Homo sapiens: one gene and its partner. The protein of the gene in region 2 interacts with the protein of the main gene of each other region in a pairwise test. Each region holds a gene or a part of one and is shown on either strand. Other genes may lie near its edges.

Region 1 (3,500 bases), on a different chromosome or scaffold from region 2:
GCAGGCGGATCATGAGGTCAGGAGATTTGAGACCATCCTGGCTAACATGGTGAAACCCGATCTCTACTAAAAATACAAAAAATTAGCTGGGTGTGGTGGCATATGCCTGTAATCCCAGCTACTTGGGAGGCTGAGGCAGGAGACTCACTTGAACCCAGGAGGTGGAGGTTGCAGTGAGCTGAGATCGCGCCACTGCACTCCAGCCTGGCCTGGCAACAGAGCGAGACTGCATCTCAATAAATAAGTAAATTACTTACTTTCCTTTTATCCATCCTTTATGTTGGGGCATTATATTGATTTATTTGAAATTATGTGTGTAAGAGGGCCATATGGATTCCATTTCAGATGGTAAAGATGCACTACACATACTTGTATTGGGGGTGCATAGGGCCCACCTGGATTTATCTGAAAGGCAGCCTGGGGTTCAGTGCCAGGCCACCCAGGAGCTGATGCCCCTCAGCAAGTTGTTCCACCTTCTTTCTACTTTTCTCCTGTCCAGGGTACATTTCTTCCTGGCCTTTGCTGTCTTCTAAGGCACGCTGTGTGAGAAGGAGGAAAAAAGGGTCAGAAAAAACAAAAGCAATTGTGCAAATACTGTGTTCTTCTTAGAATGGTCATAATAACCTAACGTAGGCTCTGTGTAGGCTGGGCACGGTGGCTCATGCCTGTAATCTCAACACTTTAGGAGGCCAAAGCAGGTGAATCACTTGAGTTCAGGTGTTCGAGACCAGCCTGGTTAACATGGCAAGACCCCATTTCTACAAAAAGTGCAAAAACTAGCCGGGCGTGGTGGCACATTCCTGTGGTCCCAGCTATTTGGGAGGCTGAGGTGGGAGGATGGCTTGAGCCCGGTGGCGGAGGTTGCAATGAGCTGAGGTTGCACCACTGCACTCCATCCTGGGCGACAGAGACAGACTCTGTCTCAAAAAAAAAAAAAAAAGAGAAAGAAAAGAAAAAAAATATTAAACCTTAAACAAAAAAAAACCTAACAAGCCTATACACTGCTCTTACCCAGGCAAAATGGTTTTTAAGTATACAGTTCGGTGACATTAAGTACATTCACATAGTCGCACAGCTATCACCACCATCCATTTCCGGAACTCTTTTCATCTTCTCAGCTGAAACTCTGTACGCAGCAAACACTAACTCCACATTCCTCCCTCCCCCCACCCCAGCAACCACCATTCTACTCTCTGTCTCTATGGATTTGACAACTCTGGATACTTCATATAAATAGAATCATACAGCATTTGTCCTTTGTGACTGGCTTAATTCACTTAGCATAATGTCTTAAGGTTCATCCGTATTGTGGCATGTGTTAGAATTTCCTTATTTTTTTATTTTTATTTTTTGAGACGGAGTTTCACTCTTGTTGGCCAGGCTGGGGTGCAATGGTGCAAACTTGGCTCGCCATAACCTCTGCCTCCTGGGTTCAAGCGATTCTCCTGCCTCAGCCTCCTGAGTAGCTGGGATTACAGGCGTGCGTCACCATGCACGCCCGGCTAATTTTGTATTTTTAGTAGAGATGGGGTTTCCCCATGTTGATCAGGGTGGTCTCAAACTCCCGACCTCAGGTAATCTGCCCACCTTGGCCTCCCAGAGTGCTGGGATTACAGGCATGAGCCACCACGCCCGGCCATAATTTCCTTATTTTTAAGGCTGAGTGATATTCCATTGCATGCACACACTGCATTTTGTTTATTCATTCATCCATCCATGGACACTTGGCTTGCTTCCACCTTTTGGATATTGTGACAAATGCTGCTGTGAACACGGGTGACCAGTATCTCCTTTCAGTTTGTGTGTGTGTGTGTACGCACCCCAAGTGGACTTGCGGGATCATATGGTAATTCCCTGTTCAGTTGTTTGTGGAACCACCATGTTGTTTTCCACAGTGGCTGTAACATTTTACATTCCCACCAGCAGCCCGTGAAAGTTCTAGTTTCTCCACATCCTCGCCAACACTTGTTATTTTCTGAGTTGAGAATAGCCATCCTAATGGGTATGAAGTGGTATGGAAAGTCTTTTCAAGCATAATAGCAAAGAAAGAAATCATAAAGAAAAATGGCCAAATATAGCTACATAGTGTCTGTAAGTAAAAAAAAAAAGTAATCAAACTTAAAAGGCAACGGTAAACTGAGGAAGACATTTGTACTGTGTATGACAAGACGCCTAGCAGGGCATGGTGGGCTTTGGCAGGTCTGGTCTACACCTGCTCTTCTCCACCGGCTGTGTGCTTTGCAATACTCAATTTCTCCCAGCCTCAGTTGCCTTATCTTTAAAATGGGAATAATCATACATTCATTGGTTGTTTGAGGAGTAAGTAAGGTAATGTATGTAAAATATATGTTACATGGTAAGTCCTCCAAGAAGCCTGGCTGGTCTTCATTGTACCATCCCAGTTATCGTCTCTTTCAATTTAATATAAATAAGACAAATATATCAGGAGAAAAGTCTTGAGACGTAAGAAGTAGTTTATATGGCCAAAAAACAAATGGAAAAAAAAGAGATCATCCTCACTAATAGAGAATAATATAAATTGAACTACAGTCTTGTGATGCCTTCTTATAAAACTGTCAAAAGTTGTAAAAAAATGCTCTTTTCCAGTGAGGATAAGTGTGGCCAAATACTCTGCTGAAGAGTAAATGGATACAATTTTCTGTAAGGCATCTGGCAATGTGTAGCAAAAGCTCGTTGACCCAGAAATTTATCCTAAGGAAAAACATCAGAATTGCACACAAAGATTTATAAACAAACCTTATCAAAATGTTTCTTTATAATAGCAGAAAATTGCAATTAACTTGAATTTCTCCAAGCTGGCTAAAGAAATCATGGTGCATCCCTAGAGGGAATACTGCAGCAGCTGTTTCCAATCCTGTTCTCAGATAAGGCTGTGGGAAATTGCTCAATGCATGAAACAGGAAAGAGAAAGAAAATCACATATCAAGGATAATCCCATTTTGCATATCATGAGAAGCATACCAGCTAGGAAAAATAAACTGGAAGGAAATATATTAAAATGTTAATAGCATTTTCCTAGATGTTGAGATAGTGAATGGTTTAGATTTTCCAATTTTTATTTTGCTAGATTTGCCAAATTCTCCACAGTTTAACATGTAACACTTGCCCTTGACTCTGTCTGTGGATGAGTACAGTGATTGGGGGCGGGGGGCGTCCTTTGGACGTGGTCTCCAGGCTGCTCTTGTGGGTCCTGCTTCATCCAGCCCTCTGGCTCTTGTCCCCCACAGTGACCGATTAGCACTGCTCCAGGTCCGGGCTATCCTCCAGCAGCTAGGTCTGAATAGCACCTGCGATGACAGTATCCTCGTCAAGACAGTGTGCGGGGTGGTGTCCAGGAGGGCCGCACAGCTGTGTGGCGCAGGCATGGCTGCGGTTGTGGATAAGATCCGCGAGAACAGAGGACTGGACCGTCTGAATGTGACTGTGGGAGTGGACGGGACACTCTACAAGCTTCATCCACAGTGAGTGGGCCTTCCAGT
Region 2 (2,605 bases):
TGGGAGGCAGAAGTTGCAGTGAGCTGAGATGGCGCCACTGCACTCCAGCCCCTGGGTGACAGAGCGAGACTCCATCTCAAAGAAACCAAAAAACCAGCTTCTGCCTTAGTGTATCAGGCTGTAATGAGGTCACCTATTCTCCAGGCCTTGGAAAAGAATCCAGGGTATTTTTTGCCCACGTGCCAAGGATTTGTCTCTAATCTTACCAGGCTACCAGTCTCTCTAGAAATGGTCCCCCAGAGCCAAGGCAAAAACAGCCCCACTCACCAGGCCCCCCAGACACCCAAATAGTCCCCTTACCATGTTGGTACCACTGTCTCAGGTTTGGGCTGAATCATAGCCTCAATGCAAAATTTCTTCTGGCCATTTCCAAAAATCAGATCTACCCTTAAAAAACAAAGATTTGGCTTTCCCTTTGTGAAGAAATGCTTCCCTCCCCCAGCTATCTCCAGTTCCTCAGCTCATCGTCTGGCACTACTGTGAGCATCACCTAGAAGGCCACTGAGATGTGCCAAGGAGAGTGGTGGGGATTTACAAACCAGTCCCCGCCCTTTATGGTAGGTGCCCTCCTGTCCTGCAGGGTCGGACCGATACCTGGAGAGCCGCGATGCCTCTCGACTGAGTGGCCGGGACCCCTCCTCATGGACAGTCGAGGATGTGATGCAGTTTGTCCGGGAAGCTGATCCTCAGCTTGGACCCCACGCTGACCTGTTTCGCAAACACGTAGGTGCTGCTGCCTGACCTCTCAGTAGGAACCTGTGTGGAGAGCCTCACCTGGTGGGGACAATACGAGATGTTTGGGGAGGAGGGATGCTTAGAGACAAAGGCTGAGGAGAACAGGTAGGCTTCAGCATCACAGCAGGTGAACTGGACTCCATGTGGCGGGCACTTCCCAGGATGGCCTATAATCAGAACCTGGGGTGGTCAGACCAACCAGGACTCTGATGGTGCCTCCCTTCCACTTCTGCCCACCTCCCCACCCCCCAGGAGATCGATGGCAAGGCCCTGCTGCTGCTGCGCAGTGACATGATGATGAAGTACATGGGCCTGAAGCTGGGGCCTGCACTCAAGCTCTCCTACCACATTGACCGGCTGAAGCAGGGCAAGTTCTGAACCAGGAGAGGCAGCCTAGACAACCAAGTGGCAGCAGGTGGGGGCATTCTTCTAGGAATGAGGGGCATCAGCCCACCCCAGGCACCTCAGTGGGGTTCCGGGCCACCTCAGGACTCCAAGAGGCTGTGTGGAGCCACCACTCCTAGCCACAGCTGCCATGATAAGTCCTTCCATGAAGGACTGAGGAGGGAGAGTGGGGGTCCAGGGCTGGTGCTGCTCTTCCCTCAGCTCTGCCGGGGCTCTAAGGTCCCTCTATTTATTTCTCAACCCTGGCTGGCCTCTCACCAGGAGTTTAGGCTGAATGCCTTCCACGTGATGGAGGAAAAGGCCAACTCTGTCCTGGTCTTGCTGTGGCACCCCATCGCCCCACAGCTCGTACCTTCTCACCAGATTCCCCTGAATCCAAACTCGTGGTGCAAACCTCTACCTTTTTTACAAAAAGATCTTATTGTTAATTTATTGTTTCTGGCACTTGGGCAAACCCTGTAGTTAATACTCCTCCCACACTAGACACTGGGTTTCAGGAGGAGGGAGACTGCCCTGCTTTGGTCCCAGAGAGGCCCTCTGCAGATAGGCGTGGCCCCTCTTCAGAGGACACTACCCTAGGGCACTTTCTCTTTGAGGTGGAGAGACCCATAAAGCCTTGACCACATCACTCCATATGGGGAGGAGAAGGATCCCTGTCACCTTCTCCTCTCTTCACGGGGCCCTTTTGCAGCCCTAGGCCTCATCTGTGGGAAGGGAGTCCCTGGCTTATACTGCCCCCACCACAGCTCCTTGCCCTGGCCAGAACTGCTGTCGAAGAAAATCAGGCCGGAAGGCCAAGAAGGCGCTAAGGGGGATGGGAGGGCAGGTTTTCCAGGCTGGAGTCGGTTCCACCCACTCGCCTGTCCACAGGCTTCCTTGTAAGCAAGTCAGCAGCACAGCTACTCACGCTGCCATCTGGACTTATTTTATGTCAATCTGTTTATAAATAAAAACCAATATAGATACCAGTGTCTTTTTAATCAGTTAACAGCCAAATCACTACGCATTCATTGGACCAGTCATTCCCCTTCTCTTGGTCTTAGTTTTCTCATACATAAAACGAGGCCGAGCACGCTGGCTCATGCCTGTAATCCCAGCACTTTGGGACGCCAAGGTGGGAGGATCTCTTGAGCTCAGGAGTTTGAGACCAGCCTGGGCAACATGGTGAAACCCCAGCTCTACAAAAAAAAAATACAAAAATTAGCCTGCTGTGGTGGCGCACACCTGTAGTCCCAGCTGCTTGGGGAGCTGAGGTGAGGGGATGGCTTGAGCCTAGGAGATCGAGGCTGCAGTGAGCCGTGTTCGCACCACTGTACTCCAGCCTAGGTGACAATTTGAGACCCTGTCTCAAATAAATAAAATGGAGAGCTTGGAAAAAATGATTCCTAAGCGTCCTTCTAATTCCAGCAGTCCCTAAAGAACAGGTGGTCTTCCGAATGTCCACCAGAGCCCCAGCATCACACAG

The links. Proteins that work in one complex are often made in the same cells at the same time.
Region 1: the proteins of SCMH1 (region 2) and HK1 interact in a two-hybrid assay, tested with the Homo sapiens proteins (one large-scale study listed by IntAct).

The regions. Positions count from the first base shown.
Region 1 is NC_000010.11:69,395,347-69,398,846, forward strand, and holds part of HK1 (hexokinase-1), read left to right. Parts: intron 1-3,248; coding exon 3,249-3,482; intron 3,483-3,500. UniProt on the Homo sapiens protein: Catalyzes the phosphorylation of various hexoses, such as D-glucose, D-glucosamine, D-fructose, D-mannose and 2-deoxy-D-glucose, to hexose 6-phosphate (D-glucose 6-phosphate, D-glucosamine 6-phosphate, D-fructose 6-phosphate, D-mannose 6-phosphate and 2-deoxy-D-glucose 6-phosphate, respectively).
Region 2 is NC_000001.11:41,026,702-41,029,306, reverse strand, and holds the end of SCMH1 (polycomb protein SCMH1), read left to right. Parts: intron 1-561; coding exon of another isoform or gene 562-580; coding exon 581-723; exon of another isoform or gene 724-774; intron 775-987; coding exon 988-1,113; 3' UTR 1,114-2,105; downstream 2,106-2,605. UniProt on the Homo sapiens protein: Associates with Polycomb group (PcG) multiprotein complexes; the complex class is required to maintain the transcriptionally repressive state of some genes.